Homo sapiens: one gene and its partner. The protein of the gene in region 2 purifies or fractionates together with the protein of the main gene of each other region. This does not show direct contact. Each region holds a gene or a part of one and is shown on either strand. Other genes may lie near its edges.

Evidence for each region. Proteins that work in one complex are often made in the same cells at the same time.
Region 1: the proteins of ANGPTL2 (region 2) and DKK3 purify together in Homo sapiens (co-immunoprecipitation; one large-scale study listed by IntAct). This does not show direct contact.

The regions. Positions count from the first base shown.
Region 1 is NC_000011.10:12,001,446-12,006,533, reverse strand, and holds part of DKK3 (dickkopf-related protein 3 isoform 1 precursor), read left to right. Parts: intron 1-4,096; coding exon 4,097-4,234; intron 4,235-5,088. UniProt on the Homo sapiens protein: Antagonizes canonical Wnt signaling by inhibiting LRP5/6 interaction with Wnt and by forming a ternary complex with the transmembrane protein KREMEN that promotes internalization of LRP5/6.
Region 2 is NC_000009.12:127,112,636-127,116,135, reverse strand, and holds part of ANGPTL2 (angiopoietin-related protein 2 precursor), read left to right. Parts: intron 1-3,500. UniProt on the Homo sapiens protein: Induces sprouting in endothelial cells through an autocrine and paracrine action.

The sequences.
Region 1 (5,088 bases), on a different chromosome or scaffold from region 2:
GAGGTGTCCTCGCTGGCAGTGGGTACAGGATGAGAGAGGTTGAACACCATGGCAGGAGAAGAGGCAGTGGGGACTGATCTTCCCTCATCCAGTCCCTGCTCTGCCACTTACTGGCAGTGGCGTTCCGAGTCTGAAGTGGAGAAATGTCCACCTCTTAGGGTAAGGTGAGAATTAAATGAGATGCTGCAAGTAAAGCAAATCAGTGAGTTGGGCAGCTATCCCTGAATATCCACTGGTCAGGTCAAGAGCCCAAGATCCATGATCTTTGTTTCCTGTGATTGTGAAACTATCATGACATGGAACAATTAAAGGGTGAAGGGAGTCATATAGGCCCCAATGTCTCTTAATTCTGCAGCTTCACATTAAATTGAGCTTGTGATGCCTGTGGTTCTAGGGCAGGCCATCCGCTGACTGCCTAAAATGGGGTTAAGTAAAACACGTGTAATACAGGTAGCTTCATTGTGAGGTGGCTGTAAGGATGACATGATGGTTGGTTGTAAATAAGTAACAGGTATCATTATCATCATATTACTAGTAGCAGTATGAATGATAACAAAACACCACCAGTGTCTGATAGATTCTCAATAGAATCTATCTTTTAAAATATCTTAAACCATTAAAAATTAATCTTAAAATACTAAAAGTATCTTTTAGATATCTTCAAAAATAGAATACAATAGATTGTTTATAGACTGTGGTTATTAGTATTAACTTTTTATGGAGACTGCCAGAATGCCCCTTAAATCTCATAGACACAGGATAATTGGTATTTAGTCATTGTTCAGGGGAAAAATCAAAAAGGACCTGGGCCAGATGCATTATTTGTTTACATAGTTGCATCATGAATCTCCTTTCAAGTAACTTCCTGGCATTTTCAATGTTCCAGCTGAATCAAGCTGTTGAAGTTTCTTAAGGGGAAGGACAAAGCAGCTCTACTTGTACGGTCATTATTGGAAGAAGCATATCTTCAAATGGCTTCAATCTGGGATATTCCTACTTTCCTGTGTTACTATTCTATATGCTACCAATCAATGTATTCTGAAGATATAACCACTCTGTTTCTCTTCCCCTCATGGCCAGCTCTGTAACTCACTCATTTTAGAATGTTCTTACTGCCTCACCTATTTCTAGTATAAGTGCCATTTTTAATAGCATTCACATTCCTCCTCTACGAAACAGCTCCTTTTGCTTCAGACTTAAGTTTCTCTTGCTAGTGGCAATAATAGTTGCGGTTGAAATTTCCATTGTAAACTATACTTTTAGTTCATGGTGCCATTTAAGAACCGTTAGCTCATTCTGTTGAAATAACCAGTGGCTGAGCTGGGGGGAAAAGTTTTATAAAAAGACTATCTGCTCAGCCCAGAGCAAATTCTAGGTTTGGCAACTTGTCAATTATTTGAAAGCCAAACTGATCCCGATGGGAATTTTAAAAACACTAAAACATTCTCTTCTTCTGGGTGGGTCCTCTCCAGCACCTTCAGTCTTCTCTTCCCAGCTGCGTTTTTTTCTATCACTAACCAGAGTGGTAACTGAGGGCAAGGTCTCTTGCTTTTAAGGAAAGTCATTTTCTTGCCCATTCTGTCTTCTATCTCAGCCCCATTTCTTCTCCCCTTTGTTGGCAAGCTCTTCAAACACATGATATCAACGTTTGCTCTTCCTGCTTCTAGCTACCCATTCCCTTCAGAACTCTGGCAAAACAAACTGGCTTCTTTTGAAACTGCCTTCTTAAAGGGCAACGGGATAAAAACAGCTGTGTATTTCATCTTTGCTGTGTGGCAGATAGTGTATTTCATGCCTTAATTCTTATATCTACTGCATGGTCCTTAATTCTTATATCTACTCAACAAAGTAGGACATCCCTATTTTACAAATGAGCAAGCTGAGGTTTAGTGGGATTTGGTATCTTGCCTAAAGTCATACAGCTACTTTGTGGCAGAGCCAGGACTTGAACCCACCTTGTCTGACTCCAGAATCCTGGTACTTTCCACTGTGTTCCTCTCCGAGGATGCTGCAGGCAATGACTTGACTCATCCAGTGGCCATCTCTCAGTGGCTTGATCCTTCTAGACTTACTTAGAGTCTTTCCCACCTAGAAGGTCCCTACCCAGAAGTAGCTCCCATCTCCTAGACCTAATTCTAGCCAGTTTCCTGACTCCCCTCTCTTTCTGATCTACTCTTTATATTATTTCCCGCTAGCCTTCTGGAACTTGCTGTAGTTCCCTATTGCCTGGAACGGAGATTCTTAACTGGGGATCAGAGGGAGGGGAGGGAAATCCTCAGAATAAGCTGAGAAGCTCAGTATTATCAGGGTCTCATCTCTAGAAATCCCAATTCAGCGGGTCCATGAAGGGATCCAGATATTTCAATTTTTTAAACTTTTGGACCTGACTCTATAATCACAGCTTCCCCATAAGGTTGCTGTCAATATTCAAGGCATCTGGTGCAACGATTCAGACATAGTCAATGCCCCAAACGTGGGGGCTATTCTTAGAATTATTATTGTTATGAAGCCAGTGATCAAGTTTCAAACATCTCAGCAGCCATCTCAGAATCCAGCACAGAATCCGGCCACTGACTAAGTCCTTGTTGAGCCTTTCTGCCTACCAGGTTTTATTCACACTTTGAGTTTAGTGTTTTTGTGTTGCATTGAGACATGAGGATTCTTTCCTCTTATCCTCCTCAGCTCAGCAAACCTGGTGGTTAAAGCAGGGGCTCATCTAGTACTTAAGGGGATAGAGGACAGTGATTTTTTTAAATAGGAAAATACTTTTTGAGCATTCTTTTTTTAAAAAAAAAAATAAAAATAGCCCATAGTCAAAAATAGCAGTGTTGGAAAATTGCCAACTATCAGGTAGAACTTCTCTTTATGTCTCTCATTTGAAATTCCTAGAGAGAGTATCTGATTGGCTCAATTAGTCTATGATGTGGCCTCCCTTTGGGTCCCATCAGCTGTGAACAGGTCACATTGTCAACTGCCCACTCATCAGGGCCAGGACAGGGTGATAAATCTGGAAGGGGAAGTTGGGTGCAGATATGAGGTCACTGACATATCTGGTATAGATGTTATGGAGGATCATGAGCCTGGAGGATTTGAGGACAGCGGCCACAGAAACCTGACACCAGAGAAGAACATATGTCTAAGAAAACCAGAAGGGGTGTGGACCCCGGGAACTGGTTAACTGACCCTCTACAAGGGTCCCTCTGCAAGGATTTCCTACAAGGGTACCCAAGAGGCAGGGTGGGGAAGGAGACACAGCTGTGGCCCTACCTACAGGGAGTAAGTTTAGGTTCCCTCCATCCCCTGCCCCTACCACCACCAACAACAGGTCCTGCCACAAGGACTTAAGAGCAAATAGTGCATTTGGGATGTGCTCCCAGAAAACACTAGCAGGAAGTGGGAAAGTGTGATGAAAGAAAAGAAAGACAATCAACGGTATGCCTGCAAGCAGGTTACTGCTGCGGGCATCTAGGGCTCCATCCCACTGGAGGCCTTAGAGGGAGACTACGTAGATTCTACATGCTTTAGAATTGTCTAGCGAAGGGAGAAGCTAGACTGTTTACCTCCATAGCCTGACTTTCATTGCTAGGATGTTAACTCCCTAGCACTTGGGGCCTCTGCAGACTGAGCATACTTTGGTGACCAGAGAATGCCCTTAGAGAGAGACAGAGTTGGTTGTTGGCATGTATGGGAACTGGATACAGGTGACCTCCAGATTAGGCCACCAGGAGATGGGCAGGGCATCAACAGCGTTTACACAGGGAGCAAGACTATCTAGTGGAAACATGTTCAAATCCCAGCTCCACCCTTTCCTGGGACTCTGGGGAATTTATCTAGTCTTCCTGAGCCTCAGTTTCCCTATTTGTAATATGAGGACATTAACACCCACCTCCCAGAGAGATTGTGAAATTTCAGTGCTGTAATATATGTAAAACGTTTAGTATAATATCTTATCATAGTGAGTACTCAATTAATAGCACCTATCATCATCATCATTCTTTGTAATTGCAGAAGAGGAAAAGAGATTTTTTTTTTCTAATAGACTCCCATTTGTAACAAGAGAAAATAATTTTGCTCATTAAATTCATCGATTTAATAGATGGAGGCAGAAGAAGCTGCTGCTAAAGCATCATCAGAAGTGAACCTGGCAAACTTACCTCCCAGCTATCACAATGAGACCAACACAGACACGAAGGTTGGAAATAATACCATCCATGTGCACCGAGAAATTCACAAGGTAAGTCATGGCCAGCACTTCCTCCTTTCTATAGCGTCCAGTCCCATCAGAGAACTAAGGTTTTTTTGTTTTTGTTTTTTCATATGTGATATACAAGCCCAAACTACAATTGAGAATCATAAAATACGGATTGAAAACCAGAAGGAGTAATGTTACTGTTGAAAGTGGAGAGACAATGTATCAGGATCCTAAACTGCTTTTGCATTTAAGCAATATATTTAACCCTAGGCTTCCTGCCAGTCCAGTTGCAAAGGAATGTCCAGGGATTATCATTTGAAAAAAAGAAAGCAAATGGATGTCTAAAAAGACCCTTTCCTAGCATTGAATTTGTGGAATTGATCTATCTCATAGGTTTTTATGTATGTCTCAGTAGGGATTGAACTAGAGACCACGTTATGGTGAATTGACCCTCACTTTTTTTTAGGAGGAATGTAAATATGATATACCCCATTTCCAAAAGAGAAACCCTCTATTGCTACAAAATTAAACATTCATTTGCTGGTTGTGCGTTCAAAATTCTCTGGCAGATTTTTCCCCAAACTACCACCTGTCTGAGTGCCTCTTGGTCTAACATCATGCATGAAGAACAACCAGGTTCATTCCCATTCTGACCTGATGAAGAAAGCTCTGCGAATCTCAAGGAACATAGCACTAGCTTGCCCCTGGTGTGCAATGTCTCTGACATGATTTGGCAGGACTCTGAGAGCAAACTGCCTAAGACTGTGTGCTGTGCAGATATTCAGGGTCGTTGTGAGCATCCCGTTGTGAATATCAAGGAGCCTGCCCCCTCAGCTCATCTCAACTCCTGTATGCAAGGGCACAGCGGCTTCACAAAAGAGCCTCACTTTTATTCA
Region 2 (3,500 bases):
ACAGGTAGTAGCAATGCACAATGGCTAGCTGCATGGGAAGGCTAAATGGGTGGGTGATGGAGGGCTGGATGGATGGATAAATGGTTCATTCAATGGTCTTATGAGAGCTGAACTAGAAGGGTTTGGGAATTGACTCCAGACTCCCCAGGTGCCTTCTGGTGGGGAATCATTCATAGCATCCTCAGCCAGGAGGGGAGGGCAGCTGGAGATCTGGATATGCCCTCCCTGGCCTCCGGGCTGATGGTGAATCATCCAGGACAAACAATGCACAGTCCTTTCACCAGGTTCTCCAAGGTGAGGGTGTCACTGCTCATCCCAGATGCCCATTTTGGGGTCTTACCACTTGCGTGATCAAGCAGCTCTTTCCAACATCCAACAAAACACACCCTTGTGCTGACCTGAAAGCTATTTCTACTTATTCAGTCAACAGTGAGTAACATGCAAGCTGCATCTCAGCCATTAAACAAACAAGCACCTTTTATTCATACTGGTTGAAGAGACAATCTTGATGCAAGGCAGGGTTTGGACCTAGCAGTTGACAGCTAAATCCCAGTTGTGATATTTACTTCCAAGTGATCTTGAACAAGCGACCTAACCTTTCTAGACTTGGGTTTCCTCTACTGCCAAATGCAGATATAATACCTTTCTCTTAGGTAATGGGATCATATAGTTTGTTGCTCAGTCAGGACAATATTGAGAGTGAAAAGGGGGTGCTATTAATAACTACATAAGACCGCAACCAGCATGGCGAAACCCTGTCTCTACTAAAAATACAAAAATTAGCCAGGTGTGGTGACAGGCACCTGTAATCCTAGCTGCTCAGGAGGTTGAGGCAGGAGAACTGCTTGAAAGCGGGAGGCAGAGGTTGCAGTGAGCTGAGATGGTGCCATTGCACTCCAGCCTGGGTGACAAGAGCGAAACTCCATCTCAAAATAATAATAATAATAATAATAATTACGTAAGACAACAGACCTCAACTGGGGCCAACCAGGATGTATGGTCCCCTACTCATAGAGCTATTAAGAGCCAATGAGATAGAGTACAGCTGGGCACCCAAATTCACAACAAACGACAGCCATTATTAGCAATACTACTGGTCACCTGATCAGCTGGGCCTTTTCCTTCATCTGGATCCCTCCCACATCTTGGATTACCAACTGGTTTGGATACTTCCCTACCAGCACACCATACATTTCAACAGCTTAGTAGGAACACCTGCTAGCTAATGTTGATGTTTTCATCTGTCTTCTGTCCTGATGATAGTTTCACAAACTTGATTCATGCTCAGGTCCACCAGACTCACTCAAGCACAGCTCAGGCTTCTAGCTTCCCAGAACCCCGACGTCAGGGGCCAGCTGGCAGTTCCAGATTCCCTGACTGCCTTGGCAGAGGCCCGCTTCTCAGGCCTCCTGCAGTGCTGGGATGCCTCTTATGGCGTGGACCCATTATTGGCCTTCATCTGTGATCACAGACCAATGGGCAGTGCTGACCAGAGGACGGGTGGTGAGGGGGTGGTTCTGTAAGTCCTCCAGGCAGGACTACAACCTGGACTGATGATGAATCAACTCCTGAGATCCGGATTTAATTTGGAGGCTTCCCTGGGATCTGCAGGCCTAATGACGGCAAGAGCACTCCTGTCGTCGTCCTGCCTAGAGGGTCAGAGAACAACCTCTTTTGGGTTTCCAGTCACTTTGGCACTTTGGTTTCTCTTTATTCACAGTATGGTATCTTTGGGGGTTATTTTGGGATCTGTTAGTGGCTCTACTACTTATTAATTTGTGATTTGGGCAAATGACTCACGATCCTCAAATCTCAATAGTTTCCTCAACTGCAAATAGGGATAAATGTCAGCTTTGCTGTTAGCCTTAAAAGTATCTTTGTGGGCATCAGAAAATTGCTACAATATAAATATAAAAAACATAAAGACTATGAATGTGAGTTGTGTCCCCTAGAGTAGCACAGTGCTCAAGTGGGGCCACCATGCATGGCGGCCCTCAAATAACAGGCCGCCTTCCGAGGGCTGTTGGGAAGATTAAGTGAGATAATGTATATAAAGTGCTTGAGCCATAGTGACAATTTATTGTTGTTATTCTTTTAATTGCTGGAACTTTTCTCATTTCTAACCTTTGGGGTGAACTCAAAAGAGGATCCCAGGCCGGCAGCTTCTGCTGCAGGGCAGAACACACAGCTCCATCTGATGAAAATGACAGCTCTTCCCACAAAGTGGCCCCTTGCTTGGGCTGTGGCACCACAGTGGTGAGAGGGATGCGGACACATGATGTGTGGCCCCACCACATCAGGCCAAGCGGGGACATTCAGAGGCAGCCCACCGGAGACTGGGTGGGACCCAAGCCCTGGAGAGGCTGCCTCCCAGTGTACAAAGGCTGTCACGTGGCACAGTCACACCAGCCTCACTTGTGGGGAGGGAAAACCCATGCGTGATGGAAACTCCTCACAATACAATGTGGAAAAGCAATTTTAAGAATCGTTTTTATTTTAATTCTGAAGCCAAGGAAAACAGTTGGATTTGCTTTTCTTTGTTGGACACAGGAAAAAAGTGAGGAGCATCACTTTGATTGGAGTTGAGTTCTTCTTCAGTCCTAAGATGGCTGGAATGCCGGGGTGGGGGTGGGGGGTGTTACTTCTCTTGAGATACAATGAGTTGAATAAATATCAAGAGAGCAAAAGTAAACAAACTTATTACTGCCCATTAAGAGCCGCCAAACTGGCAAAAAACTGCTGGGGGGAGGGGAGGAATTGGGGTTGGAGTCTTGGACTCCAAGGAAAATAAATGACTCTGAGGCTCAAAGAGAAGCCCAAGGAGCATGGCCCTTGGTATCAGGTTGACCCAAGTCCTAGGCTCAGTCACCTTTGGCTGTTATCTGCCGTGTGTTCCTGGGCAAATCACTGAGCCTGTTTGGGTTGCAATGTCTCCGTTGATAAAACAGGGGTGAATAACAACCCACCGGATTACCTGGGACAATGTATGTCAGGCGCCCAGCACAGTGCCCTGTTCCTTCCCTTCCTTCCTGTAACCCAATCAGTTCTGAGTCACCCCCACTAAGCCTAGGCCCCACAGAGGTGTAACAGTAGGACTCAGAATCAATGTAGTTACAAGAGGTCCCACTGCTCGCAACATGACCTCAAAGTCAGCTACCCCTACACCTTTTTGAGCTTCAGTTTCCTCAGCCTAGAAATGGGCATAACACTAGTAAGTCACTCTGAGTGTTGGAATGATTAGATGAGAGAATGTTGATGTGAAGGGTCTGGAAGCCCTAAAGCCCTGTGCAAGCATTAGTCAAGGAGATGGTGTGAGTGCTTGGCACACTGCCTGGCCCACACCCAGCATCCTCACTGTTGTTGGTTTTGTTTCAGCTTTGTTGTTCTTGCTATCGTATTGCTAACACATTATTCCAATCTCCCGCTTCTGATGCACTTCCATGCTGCTCACCTAGTGTGCAAGGTGGGTTGGATCATCCCATTTCACAGAAAAGACTCAG